Linked DNA regions of Homo sapiens. The gene in region 1 interacts genetically with each later gene. Each region holds a gene or a part of one and is shown on either strand. Other genes may lie near its edges.

Region 1 (4,986 bases):
AAACCAGCCGGGCCAACATGGTAAAACCCTGTCTCTACAAAACATATGAAAAAAAAAAAAAAAAAGCCAGACATGTTGGCACGTGCCTGTAATCCTAGCTACCTGGGAGGCTGAGGTGTGAGAATCACTTTAACCCGGGAGGCGGAGGTTGCAGTGAGCCAAGATCGCGCCACTGGCACTGCAGCTTGGGTGACAGAGTGAGATTCCATCTTAAAAAAACAAAAAACAAAAACCAAAAAAACCAACAACAGATGAAGCACAGCTGAACTTGAACAACATGGGTTTGAAGTACATGGGTCTACTTAATATGCAGATTTTCTTCAAACAAACATGGATTGAAAATACAAGCCAGGCGCAGTGGCTCATGGCTGTAACCCCAGCACTTTGGGAGGCTGAGGTGGGTGGACTGCTTGAGCTCAGGAGTTTGAGACCAGCCTGGGGAACATGGCAGAACCCCCTATCTACAGAAAATACAAAAATTAGCCAGGCGTGGTGGTGCATGCCTATAGTCTCAGCTACTCAGAAGGCTGAGGTAGGAGGATCACTTGAACCCAGCAGGCAGAGGTTGCAGTTGGCTAAGATTCATGCCACTGCACTCCAGCCTGGGTGACAGAGCAAGACTCTGTCTCAAAAAAGAAAAGAAAAAGAAAACAGTATTCTTGGGATGCAAACCCCGAGTATATGGAGGGCCGACTTTTCATATATGTGGCTACCACAGGCCGAATGTGGGACTTGAGAATGTGTAGACTTTCATATACTGAAGGAAAACTGTACCGACACATGCTACCACATGGATGACTCTTGAAAACACGCTAAATAAAAGCTGCCAGTTACTAAAGACCACATATTGTATGATTCCATTTATGTAAAATGTCTAGAACAAAAAATCCCGAGACAGAAAACAGATTCATAGCTGCCTACTGCTGGGCTACTGGGGGTGCTGGTGTTTGGGTGTGCCTCCTGGAATTCATTTGGCAATCTGGTTGCTACTGCGGCAGTGTCGGGAGGTAGGGCCTTTAAGAGATTAGGTCGTTAAAAGGAATAAATGCCTCATGCCCTTCTCTCAGGAATGGGCTAACTACCCAAAGTTTAGCCCTTTTCTCTGTTGCACCCTGCTCCCGCTTCTGCTTTTTCTGCCATGCTATCAAGCAGCATGAGGCCCTCACCAGATGTGGCTCCTGATCTGGGACTTCCCAGTCCCCAGAACCATGAGCTAAAGAAACCGCTTTATAACTTACCCACTCTCAGGTATTCTGTTCTAGCAACGGAAAACAGATCAAGACAGGGTGACTGCTAAAGGGTAAGGGATTCTTTTGAGGGTGATGAAAATGGTCTGAAATTGACCAGTTACAGAACTCTTCAAATATATTAAAAACCACTAAATTGTACGGTATGTGAAGTATATCTCATCTAAGCTATTAATAAAGACAACCAAATAAACAGAACCAAATTCCAAGGCAGAATTCTGGTATAAATACATTACCTGTGATTTCTGATCCCATTTCTGCCTAACCCCAAATTGTTTCTGGAACTTTTTCTGCAGTCGAATGCGTTCTCTGGAAAGACAGACATATGATCTCAGTGCAGACCTTTAAACCAGTGGCTTCTTCAAAAGGCACACGCTGCCATTCTCTTCAGCTAAACCTTACCATCACCACTAACTCCTTTAAACTACGAAAAATGGGCTTAGAGAAAGGAAGAGACCCAGACGGTGCATACTGGAGGTGTTAGAAAAGGTACACTGCCTCCAAATACTGACCAGATGATTTTACTTCATCTATAGTGACTGTTCACTGATAGTTCCAATCTGGGGTGTAGTGGCCGCTGGACCACACAACACCAGGAGGCTCAAAGGACCAGCATACAGGGGGCTTCCTAGAGTTGACCCACAGCAGAACTGAGCCCAGGTAAGCTCCAGAGCCTCTTCTTGCCTGCCTGTGTTTCCCTTTAGTGCGCATGACCAGCACAAGGAGTTAGTTTCCTGCCCATGCTATCTGCCATGAACCAGCCTGAGAACGACAAGCTAAAAGGGGGCTTAACTGGTTGTAGAAAGTATTTTCCTTTTTTGCAGTGGTGGGGAATACAACCATCCTCCTGCTTTGGTCCTGTGGTTTCCAAATACGGCCAGTCTGGGAAGGGTGTCTTGTTCCAGCAGGATGAAAATCTCACCTCTCTTTCTGTTTGGCACTCTTAGGCAGGATCTGCAGGTTGAACTGCAACATGTTCCGACGATCTTTGTCTCTGCGGAGGTTCCTCTGGGCATCAGCAAGAAACATCCATGTTAAAATCTTGGAGATTTGGCTCACAATAGGCAGAACAAGTGGGAGGTCTTTGGAGTAAATTTAGGATGCCAAATCCCAAGTTTCACATCTTACTCTGTGCTTTCACTCTACGGCATCAACAGCTTGGGGGTGTTAGGGGGTAAGTGCTTGGACTTTGCTTAGACCTATACTCCCATGATATATTTTTCATTGAAGTATGTTTACTGGGTCTCATTAGATTTTCTGAGTTTGCCTCTTTAAATAATAATAGGCAATCTGACTGGACCATCTACTTAATAAAGTCTGCACACAGCAATTAAGTGTGGTAACAGGCACAGGTGCACCTTCTTATCCAGCACAAATGTTTTTAGCATACAAGTCTGATGTCCTAGCTACTGGCAAACAGAAATATAAACTATTTAAATGCATCCCTGATCCTAGTGCAAGTTCACCTTGGTACCACTTGTTATGGAACGGTGACCCGAGATTCACGAAAAGACCTATAATATGCTTCCCTCTCTCATTAGGAGTCACAAGGTAGCATTTTTTAGCAGGTGATGGCCAACAGTAACAGCCCCAAGATGGTGTGGTTGCTGGCTCTTGGCCTACCTGGGCAAATCTCATTCGATTCCGCTGGTAGGCCGTCTTCTGTGTGCGCGCTGTATCCACCAGCTGGAAGCTACTTTCATCCTCCTCATGGAAATAAGCATATTGACTTCCACCACCAAACTGAGAGGAGTACTTATCTGGAGGCAAAGGTGATGGCATGTAGTAACTGCACCCACAGACTTTACCAGATATGCACCAGTCTAAAGCCTTGCTATTTCAAGTGTGGTCTTGAGACCTGTAGCATTGGCTGAAAGCTTGTTAGACACACAGACTCACAGTCCCACCCCATACCCACTGAATCAGAACCAGCATTTTAACAAGATCCCCGGATGATTCATATGCACATTCAATTTTGAACAACTCTGGCCTAAAGAACTTTCTAAGCCAAGAATCTGAAGGACTCAAACTAACCCATTTCACTCTCTGCGTTATTGTGTGAGAATCTGAGGTATTTATTGCTAACCACCATCTCCATTATCAGGGGCCCATGGCAGGTATGTCTAATAGATCACGATATACTTTCTTGCCAATCTCAGCCTCAGCTATCCTAACTTAGTTCTCCAGGCAGCCACCTCCAACTATCTGAAGTGGCAGAGAGAAAAAGCCTTTTTATGGTACCAGGATCTTAAAACCAGGGGTTTTACTTTTTTTTTTTTTTTTTTTTTTGGAGACAGGATCTGGCTCTGTCACCAGGCTGGAGTACAATAGCATGATCTCTGCTCACTGCAACCTCTAACTTCTGGGTTCAAGTGATTGTCCTGCCTCAGCCACCCGAGTAGCTGGGATTACAGGTGCACGCCACCACGCCCAGCTAATGTTTTCAACAGGTTTTTAAAAGGGCCCAAAACCCCATTTTAATAGGCTAGACCTCTTTAATGAATGGTCTAAGTTTTGAGGGCTATTTCCAAAAATGTGGTTATTGTTAAAGCCCAGAATACATCCCTAAAAGTTATGAATTATTGTTGGCAGTTTCTTCCCATTCTAAAAAGCTTTCAGAAGAAGGTCATTAGAATAAAGAACAACTTTCCCAAGGCCCTGATTGGGGCATTCAGTTGCAGAAACACTTACTTGTGTACCTCTTATCTTGGTATGTGGCTCCTGTCCAGTCTGCAACCTACGAAGAACAAGAAAAGACAGAGAATGCACAGGTCAACCAGGCAAGTTTCTGCAGAACCAGAAATCCCTGAGCGCGAGAGGACAGCGTGGAAGAGTCTCAGAATTTGTTCACAACACCTCTGTAAGTGCCCAGCTCTTCTATGACTACACCCAGAGATAACCTTTCTCAGCTGGCATCCCTATAAGAAATTCAGGAGTTAAGATTTTGAGACAATAAAATCTAAACAGGGACTCGAGAGTAGCAGCCACAGCTGCAAAGATTCAGACTCCTGCTGACAGGCATGTACCTTTCCTAGCCGATCTCCTTTGCTGAACGGCTGGTAGGGCATATCCCGAAACTGCTCGGGAACCGCACAGGGACCCCAGCCTGAGGGGTTGTCCTGGATCACGGGTGTCATGAACTTTGCCATCTTCCAAAATCTGAAAAATATAAATCATGTGAGTAGCGGCATGAACGAAGGCCTCAGAGTACAAAACACCCTCCATATGAAGTAAGCAAAGACATAAATGATAGAACTCAAAAAGCAACACGCAAAATGGAACCCTCAACTGTTGAGCGACTACTACTGTTTTTGTTAATTATACTGTGAATATGTACTTAAAACTGAGAAGAATGCAAACAAAACTGATTTTTCATATTTCATTAATTCCACGACACTCTCTTTTTACTGTAACATCTTTAAAATGAGGCTGCACCTTGTGTTTGACAGGGTGTTGTATTGATTGGTAGTTTTTCTTTTTCTGTGTTACATAAGTGTTTAAAAAAATTTAATGGTGTCAGATTTGATAAAATGTCCTAATGTTTTTTCAAATATAGTAACCTTGTTTTGGTTCTGAGATATACCTTCACCAATTCATACAAACTCAACTTCCCTAAGACTTAGTAGTCTTTTCTTTCTTTCTTTTTTTTTTTTGAGACAGAGTCTCACTTTGTCACCCATGCTGGGGTGCAGTGGCGTGCAACTTCCGCCTTCCGAGTTCAAGCGATTCTCCTGCCTCA
Region 2 (4,986 bases), on another chromosome or scaffold:
CAGAACTGGATAAAAGCAATGTGAATTGAAAGATTAACAGATTAATAAAGAGCTCCTTATTCAACAAACTTGACCTGCTTCTCTACAGAAAGGAAATGTCACAATGATAAATCTAGACAACTTGTCAAAGCTACTTTCTTGTTCTGTTAAGAAACAGCCTTTCAACACTGGACTTAAAATCCCCAGAAAAAGCTCAGTGACCCCTAGTGGACCACCTACTTCTCCATCCAGGTGATCTAGCAAAATGCACATGCTGGACATCAGGATAGCTGGGACACGTTCTGCTAGTTCTGTCAGGAATGCTGCAAAGCCCTTTGTCCCTGAAGGGTCTCGACTCAGCTCTTGGGGACACTTTTGTCCAATCTCTCTACACAGGGAAGAAAACACAGCCATAGCAACATAGATCAATTATTCAGTTCCCAGTAAGGGAAGGTAAGACAGGTATCTAATATCTGAAGGAATCTACTGTTGCACAGATAATGTATTTCCAATCTTTCTTTATTCCCTCCCCAAGGAAAATAAGCATGAGAAACTTCGAGAAGGAAGAGTCACCTTACAATCTCTCCCACTATGCTCTTCATTCCATAGTCAGTTGCCCATAGACTCACGGCTGCAACCAGTACAGGTGCCAGGTGTTCAAAGTGCTGCAGCATCTGGATGATCTTCACTGTAGCACCTGTGGAAGCATTAAACATGAGAAATTATGGGCAATACAAAAAAGGCGGGGCAAAGCGACTGGTAACTTACTGAGCATATGGTTATAACGGGTCAAGGCTACACCAAGCAGGTGTGTTATGGCTTCCCGAGTGGGGCGGTTCTTCTGGTGATTAATGGTGGGATTCTCCAGAAGGCGGTAGCAACAGCCAGTAACCAAACTGAGAAAGGAAGAGTTTGAGATGATGAAAGCAGCTGTCTGAATCCAATTGTATCAGAGCCCTGCCTCATTCATTCTATCCCTACTGCTCCCAAAGTCAGGGTTTTCTTTATTCTAGCCATTACTTTCTATAACAAGTTGCTTTGCTTTGCTGACCCCAGTTAGGTACTCCTTCCTTCAAGATTACCAACTTTCAACCAGTTGTGATGCTGACAAAGAACCTAAATATATCATAAAAATATGATAGAGTTGGCCGGGTGTGGTGGCTCATGCCTGTAATCCCAGCACTTTGGGAGGCCGAGGCAGGTGGATCACGAGGTCAGGCATTCAAGACCAGCTTGGCCAACATAGTGAAACCCTGTCTCTACTAAAAATACAAAAAATTAGCTGGGTGTGGTGGTGGGCGCCTGTAATCCCAGCTACTTGGGAGGCTGAGGCAGGAGAATCCCTTGAACCTGGGAGGTGGAGGTTGCAGTGAGCTGATATCATGCCACTGCACTCCAGGCCAGGCGACATTGCGAGACTCCATCACAAAAAAAAAAAAAAAAAAGACAAAGTCACCAATGACTTCTCATTCCTAAATATAACGACTGATTCAATCTGCATCTCAAGTGGTCTTTCACAGCTGCATGTGATACAGTTAATCACTCACTTTCTCCTTGAAATATATGCTTTATCTCGCTTCCAGGACACAAGAACAAGACTCCTTTCTCAGTTTCTTTGGCTAGTTCCTCCTCAGACTCTTTTTTTTGAGACAGGGTCTGCCTCTGTTGCCCAGGCTGGAGTGCAGTGGTGCAATCACGGCTCACTGCATCCTTGACCTCCTCATAGCTCAGGTGATGCTCCCACCTCAGCCTCCACCATGCCCAGCTAATTTTTCTATTTTTTGTAGAGACACAGTTTCACTATGTTGTCCAGGCTGATCTCAAACTCCTGGGCTCAAGTGATCCTCCTGCCTCAGCCTCCCAAAGTGCTAGGATTATAGGCGTGAGCCATGCACCCGGCATCCTCACTCTTAATGCTGGAGTGCCCTAGGGTACCAGTCCTTGGATTCCTGCTCTTTTAGCTACACTTACTGATTTGGTAATTTCATTCAGTCTCACGGCTCTGAATACTATTATATTCCCAAATGTGTTATCTCTAGCTCAGACCTCTCTCCTGAACTCCAGATCTATATATTCAACGTCCAAATCTGACTTTACGTGGCTAATAAACACCTCAAACTTTGTATGTCCAAAACAGAACATCTGATCTTCCTCCCAAAACACCTATTCACAGCCTTCTCCCTATCTCAGTTACCATTAACTCCAGTCTTCCAAATGCTCAGACCAAAACCCGGGAGAGTCATCCTTGACTGAACTCTCCCTCCCACCTCACACCCAGTCTGTTAGCAAATCCTGTAAGCTCTACCTTAAGGAAAAAGTATAGAATCCAACTACTTCTCCCCATCTCCACTGCCACGCCTTGGTCTAAGAGACCATCATCTCTTGCTTGAGTTATTGGAACAGCCTCTTAACTGGTCTCTTGCTTCCCCTTTCCCTCCATAGTCGATTTCAATACAACAGCTAGGATGGCCCTGTTGAAGTACAAGTCAGGTCACCTCACCTCCCTGCTTGTGGCTCCCCAGTGGCTCCACTTCATTCTGAGGAAATGCCAAAGTCACCATGATGGCCCACAAGAACCTGCGGTCTGGCTCCCCACTGCTCCCATGGCCTCACGGCCTAACCCTCGTACCTGCTCTCAGCTGTCAGCTCTCTGGCCTCCTTGCTATTGCTCGTACGTGCTGGACATGCTCCCTCCTCAAGGTCTTTGCATATGCTATTCCTTTTCCCTGCCCTTGCTATTCCTCCACATATTCTCATAGCTCTCAGTCACCTCCTCTGGGTCTTTGCTCAAATGTCACCATCTCAAAGAAGTCTTACTAGAGTAGCTTGTCTGTCTGTTTGTCTGTCTGTCTATCTATCTATCTATCTTTTTTTTTTTTTTTTTTTTTGGAGATGGAGTCTTGCTCTGTTGCCCAGGCTGGAGTGCAGTGGCGCGATCTCAGGTCACTGCAAGCTCCACCTCCCGGGTTCACGCCATTCTCCTGCCTCAGCCTCCTGAGTAGCTGGGACTAGAGGCGCCCGCCACCATGCCCGGCTAATTTTTTTTTGTATTTTTAGTAGAGACGGGGTTTCACCGTGGTCTCGATCTCCTGACCTCGTGATCCACCTGCCTCAGCCTCCCAAAGTGCTGGGATTACAGGCGTGAGCCACCGCGCCTGGCCCTATCTATTTTTTTTGAGACGGGATTTTGCTCTTGTCGCCCAGGATGGAGTGCAATGGTGCGATCTCAGCTCATTGCAACCTCCCTCTCCCAGGTTCAAGTGATGCTCCTGCCTCAGCCTCCCAAGTAGCTGGCATTACAGGCACACACCACCATGCACAGCTAATTTTCATATTTTTTTAGTAGAGACAAGGTTTCACCATGTTGGCCAGGCCGGTCTTGAACTCCTGACCTCAGGTGATCCACTCGCCTCGGCCTCCCAGAGTGCTGGGATTATAGGCGTGAGCCACCGCACCGGGCCTAGAGTAGCTGATTTAAAATCACAACCTTCTTCCATCAAACTTATTTTACTTATTTTAAAAATAGACTTCTGGCTGGGCGTGGTGGCTCACACCTGTAATCCCAGCACTTTGGGGGGCCAAAGCAGGGAGATCACCTGAGGTTAGGAGTTCAAGACCAGCCTGGCCAACATGGCAAAACCCGTCTCTATTAAAAATACAAAAATCAGCTTGTGGTGGCGGGCACCTGTAATCCCAGCTACTCGGGAGGCTGAGGCAGGAAAATTGCTTGAACCCAGGAGGTAGAGGCTGCAGTGAGCCGAGATTGAACCACTGCGCTCCAGCCTGGGCGACAAGAGTGAAGCTCTGTCCCCCCACAAAAAAAAAACAAAACCAAAAAAACGGCATATCTATCAACAGAGCCTCACTCTCACAGCTCAGTATTATCTGTAGCCATCCTCCCTACCCACCTGACAAATTCTTCTTCAATTATTGAGTGGTTCCACAGGTGACGGATGTCCAACTGAAGTAGCTGTGTTAAAAGCTGAAGAATTGGTTGCCTCTCTTCTTCCCAGTCAAAGCCATGGGCTGCCTTGGTCCGAGCTTTCTTACCCTAAAAAGGATCATGTATACATTGAGGAAAAAATAAGGGAAAAAAGTGGGTCAAGATCTGTCAGTCTGAGTGCCCAAACAATCTAGTACCAAGACAACATAGAAGGTAATACGGAAGAAATATTACAAGTTCCACAGCGCTACTTGTCCAGGAAGAAAACGTGTGACACTTTTGAGTTCTTTCTCCTAAATTCTCAATGAGGACAGAAAGGATTTGTGGATCATTGGATTCCCTTCTTTTCCATCTATTCCCCTATCTCCCCAGACCCCATATAACGTGAGCCCAAAACTCCAAATTACCTTCCCACCAAGGTCCAGGTCCACAAGGTTTGTCTGGCTGGCCATGGTCTCAAAGGATTCCAGGAGACGTATCAGAGCATAACAGTTCATTTTGAGGGCATTTAGATGGGCGTTTCTATCTGATCCACTCAAAGTTGTATCATCCAGGATAGCTGGAAGCTCCTGGGAGTGGCGGGATACCACTGTGAGGGGCAGAATCTTGGAGTCAGTTTCACTCACTTCTTTCATATACCCCAACTTCAAAACACCCAGCACTTGCAGCCATCAGATTACCAAAGATCTGTGTTTCATCTCTCAGTGGCCATAACACAAGCTAAGTCCTTTAGGACCCTTGGCCCTGATACCCTGAACATGCCCTGTTCCTACTCTCTCACTCCAGTTACCACAATTTCTCTCCAGCAACTGGAAGAATCACCCCTATTAAAAAGAGGTAGCTCAAAAGTAGGAAAAAGTTCTTGTTGGTCTGCCCTTACAGTGAACACACATAACTCTGTATCGCCCACCAAGATTACAGACCTTTAACAGGCCAAAGGTCCCTGGGCTTAGCCAAACCAACTGAATCACAACAGCCTTGATATCATCATGTGGCTGACAAAATGTAGGAAAAACAAACAAACAGACAAACAAACAAACGATAACAAACACCTTCCATCCCCT
Region 3 (4,585 bases), on another chromosome or scaffold:
TGCCAGCCTAGCTCCCAGTTCCTTGTAGGATTTCTGTTCTTACCACGTAAGAAAATAAGTCATTCTATTATATAGACCAGCAAGAATTTGCTTTTTTTAAAAAGTAGAAATAACCATACATAACAACTTCAGTTCTATGGCTTTCAGAATGCAAGAAACGTCTAGGACTACCAGTATTCTAGTTACTTATAGAATTTTTTTATGTTCTAATACTGCGATGTCTAGCATGGTAGCCACTAGCCACATGTGGCTGCTTAATTTTGTATTAAGTAAAATTTAAAATTCAGTTCTCAGTAACACAAGCCACATTTCAAGTGTTCACTAGCCATGTGGGGCTAGTGGCTGCTATACCAGTGTAGATACTTAATGTTTCTATCATCATAGAAAGTTTTATTTAGGCAGTATTATATGTTATGATATGGGATGGGCTTTTTGTTTCAGTCTAGAAACTACAAAAAAAAAGACAGCAGGGAGGAATAAGATCTTCAAGAAACTCATTCCCTTAAAACCCACCCACATACATACACACACACAAAATTTTTTTAATTAAAAATATCACTATCATTTATGCCAGTGTTCCACTACTCTACAAAGATATGCATATTCTTTTAGAAAGTAGCATTAGTATTGCAGCTAGCCACAATAATTTAGTTGAAATTTAAATCACAATATTTAGCCCCTCTAAAAATGCAATACTTACATCCCTATATATAACTACATATCTATATTCTCTCTATATAGTATCCTGTATGTTATTTATCCACTATACATCTCTATATAGCTAATATGCTATATATTACTATATACAGTGATAATATAAATATACACACATTTTATGCATTATATATATAACTATACGGTAATACTATATGTATGTAATATATAGTAAGTGTGCCATAAAGTGTCACCTACCTTGGCTTCCAATATCAGAGACTTCTACTCCAGTGTCCATTTTTATACCATCAAGAATGATAGCTTGATCACCACCGCCTTCATCATCTTCCTTCTCAGAGTCTTCAAGATCACCCCAGGAGTTTTCTACTCCCTCTCCAATTTGGGCAGTTCCAGGAGTCCATAGCACAGGTGTAGAAACACTTAACAAGTTAAGAAAACTGAGTAACAAAAATATTGCTATTTGATGAACTGTTGAAGATGAGAATGAAAGTTTTCTTCTTGTAAGATTGATTCAAGTGTGCCCCAAGTTCCTAGGGGAAAAAAAACTTAATATAGCTACACTATGGATGGCTGAACAATGAAGAAGAAAAAAAACTCAGGCAAGATTTTATGGATGCAATTAATAAGAAATGTGAAGAGACAGATTCTCTCAACATTTTAGTTATAGTACTAAATTAAATTGGTCCTTAAAATCTGTTTTTTCCAGGATAACTGAATAGAAGCTGAATGTTATACCATCAACAGAATATGACTCACATCTCTATCTTGTATTTTAAGTGTTTTCTCTAACAAAGTACAGTGTTTACAAAAACTAATTTCAGTATACACATCCTTCATATAGCCTAATATTATAATGCCAAGTGTTATGAATCTTGTTACTGCAAAAACCACCAAATAAAGATACACTTCTGAAGGAGGTTCTGCTTCAGCAATGATTTCTTCTGCTTTTTCTTCTACATCCGAGGTATCAATAGGGGCCTTTTCCATTTTAAATGCTGTGATCCTTTGATTTGCTATAGACTCTGCAAAACCAAACTTTCCACCTTCTTTCCTGTATGTGGGGGTTTTTTTGGTGGGAAGGAAGGGGGAGGAAGGTAACAGATTGGATAGAAGACAGGAAGGGAAAAAAACTATTATTTTATCCTTTGGTGGATGAAAAATATTGGAAGAGAGTTAGTTTATCTAACTTAACCTCACCAATTTATTATGCCTAACAAGAGTAAATAGTTAGCATAATCATTTATTAAACCACGTGCCAGACCATGTGCTAGGTGCTTAAAATATACTATTCTCTAACCCTCAAATCAGCCCTACCAGGTAGTGTTAATATCCCATATTATAGAAGAGGACACTGAAATGCTGGGTTATGTATCTTGCTTAAGATAGCACAGTAAGAGGTAGAGATGGAAATCAACCTGTTTCCTTCCATTAATTTGAGTTACTAGATTATTTTTATCCTAAGAAAATGTTAACTGCTAAAGAAAAATCTTATGTCTCCAGGCACGGTGGCTCACACCTGTAATCCTAATATTTTGGGAGGCCCAGGCGGGTGGATCACCTGAGGTCAGGAGTTTGAGACCGGCCTGGCCAAAACGGCGAAACCCCATCCCTACTAAAAATATAAAAATTAGCCGGGCATGGTGGTATGCATCTGTAATCTCAGCTATTTGGGAGGCTGAGGCAGGAGAATCACTTGAAGCCATGAGGCGGAGGCTGCAGTGAGCTGAGATTGCACAAATGCACTATAGCCTAGGTGACAGAGTGAGAAGTGAGACTTCATCTCAAAAAACAAACAAAAATCTTATATGATTTTTCAATATAGGTTACATTTAAATTGCAGAAAATATAACAAGTCCAATTTTCTAAAAACACATTAAATAGTATACTCAATTCAGATTAACAAATAAGGAAAGATCAAGTGTGAAATTTATATGGTTGCCCTCGTTCAAGGAAGATCCTTAAGAAAAAAAATATATTAAAAGACCATTTAGGGCCATTTCCTGTTCCCTGTGTTGTATCTTGGAGTCTGGATTAATGAAGACCTCTTGCTCTTAGGAGGGTCTTTCCTCTTTATTGTTTTAGAATTCTGGACTTGACCCAGACTTAAATTCCCATCTGTGATGCATTTTGCAATAAGTGGGTTTGATGCCAGCACTTTGAAAGATATCCCTCATAAAACAAAAGGACAAGAATCACCAGCTCCCACACAAAGTAAAAAACGTGAACCTAATTTTAGCAGTGTTAATAAGGAGCAACTATCCACAAGTCACTGCATCAATAATGCTTGTGTTATAACATCCTCTCCTCCCTAAGGCACAGGAGCAAGTGACACATACTTGTCTGGGAACCAGTTTCATTAATACTTTTATTGTATCCGTCCAAAGATGAGTAGCAATATCTGTTACCAGTTTCACTACCTTTCGGAGTTTTGGGTAACATAACTATACCATGGTATTTACACTTTTTAATGAGTCAATTTTAATTGAAATTGCCATTCTAACTTTGTATGTGAAATCAAGTTCATGCATAATAAAGCTTGCTTATACTAAAAAAAATAATAAAAATTTAAAAAATGAAAATAAAAGACCACTTAGTTCTGGAAAAGTTACTTACCTTACTTTTTGGTCATTCTCCAAAGCTTTCAATATTAGCTCTGTAATTTCTGCTACTTTCACACCAGCGATTTTACTGCATCTCAGAACCTATTTATAAAAGTGAATTCTGTTGTTTAAAGACAATAAACCAAATAGTTTTCTCTAATGAAACTAAAACCATGAAATTTTTCTACCTTTATAATTTAAGCCTGACTTTTCCAAACATGAATACAATGTAAACACAGATTAAGGCAAGATGTGAAAGTTGTTTTAAGATATGTGAAGGACTGTCACATCAAGGGAACAGACATAAAAACTTTCTTATACAACAGTATAAAAGATACCACAGAAGAGGCCACAGACACATATATGCTCCAGGATGCACTAACTTCCTTTTTCTGTGGGTAATCTGGGTAGTACTTGTGATGCTGGTAAAGATGATGATGATGATACCAGAAACTAACATTTATTGCACACTTAATAAATGTGTGCTAGACACTGTGCAATATATTTATATCCTTATAACAACAAGGTGTTGGCAATAACATCATTCCCTATTTTACAGATAAAGAAAGTGAGACCCAAAGATATAAAATCATTTGCCCAAGATCAGCTAGTATGGGGGCAGAACTAGAATTCAAACTAAAGAAGCTTTTAATCATCTACACTGTATGCTATATGGAGATCTATTTTCTAAAAGCTCCCATGTGAATATGATATATAGCTGGGTTTCAGAACTACTGCCAATTGTAGTTCTAAAAGTGCAAGTAAAACTATCTTTTTACATAATGTCTACTATTGGATGTTTAAAAATTTTTATTTGCTTTTGAGACAGGGTCTCATTCCGTAGCCCAGGCTGGAATGCAGTGACACGATCTCAGCTCACTCAACCTCCACCTCCTAGGCTCAAGCAATCCTCCCACCTCAGCCTCCCAAGTGGCCAGGACCACACGCATGCACCACCAAGCTCGGCTAATATTTATTTATTTATTTTATTTTTTATTTTTTCAGATGGAATTTTGCTGTTGTTGCCCAGACTGGAGAACAATGGCACGATCTCAGCTCACTGCAACCTCTGCCTCCCGGATTCAAGCAATTCTCCTGCCTCAGCCTCCCAAGTAGCTGGGATTACAGGCGTGCGCCAGCCACCACACCCAGCTAATTTTGTATTTTTAGTAGAGATGGGTTTCACCATGTTGGCCAGGCTGGTCTTGAACTCCTGACCTCAAGTGATCCACCAGCCACGGCCTCCCAAAGTGCTGGGATTACAGGCGTAAGCCAACATGCCCGGCCACTTTTTTTTTTTTTTTAATAGG

Evidence for each region.
Region 2: changes in EIF3D (region 1) and NCAPD2 together harm fitness less than expected from each alone (positive genetic interaction), as found in Homo sapiens cells (one large-scale study listed by BioGRID).
Region 3: changes in EIF3D (region 1) and EXOSC9 together harm fitness more than expected from each alone (negative genetic interaction), as found in Homo sapiens cells (one large-scale study listed by BioGRID).

What each region holds. Positions count from the first base shown.
Region 1 is NC_000022.11:36,521,726-36,526,711, forward strand, and holds part of EIF3D (eukaryotic translation initiation factor 3 subunit D), read right to left. Parts: intron 4,407-4,986; 5' UTR 4,397-4,406; coding exon 4,274-4,396; intron 3,985-4,273; coding exon 3,939-3,984; intron 3,008-3,938; coding exon 2,871-3,007; intron 2,256-2,870; coding exon 2,170-2,255; intron 1,557-2,169; coding exon 1,484-1,556; intron 1-1,483. UniProt on the Homo sapiens protein: mRNA cap-binding component of the eukaryotic translation initiation factor 3 (eIF-3) complex, a complex required for several steps in the initiation of protein synthesis of a specialized repertoire of mRNAs.
Region 2 is NC_000012.12:6,510,154-6,515,139, reverse strand, and holds part of NCAPD2 (condensin complex subunit 1), read right to left. Parts: intron 4,919-4,986; exon of another isoform or gene 4,589-4,918; intron 4,512-4,588; coding exon 4,330-4,511; intron 4,031-4,329; coding exon 3,888-4,030; intron 876-3,887; coding exon 748-875; intron 677-747; coding exon 553-676; intron 368-552; coding exon 220-367; intron 1-219. UniProt on the Homo sapiens protein: Regulatory subunit of the condensin complex, a complex required for conversion of interphase chromatin into mitotic-like condense chromosomes.
Region 3 is NC_000004.12:121,810,375-121,814,959, reverse strand, and holds part of EXOSC9 (exosome complex component RRP45), read right to left. Parts: intron 3,378-4,585; coding exon 3,289-3,377; intron 1,727-3,288; coding exon 1,580-1,726; intron 1,095-1,579; coding exon 913-1,094; intron 1-912. UniProt on the Homo sapiens protein: Non-catalytic component of the RNA exosome complex which has 3'->5' exoribonuclease activity and participates in a multitude of cellular RNA processing and degradation events.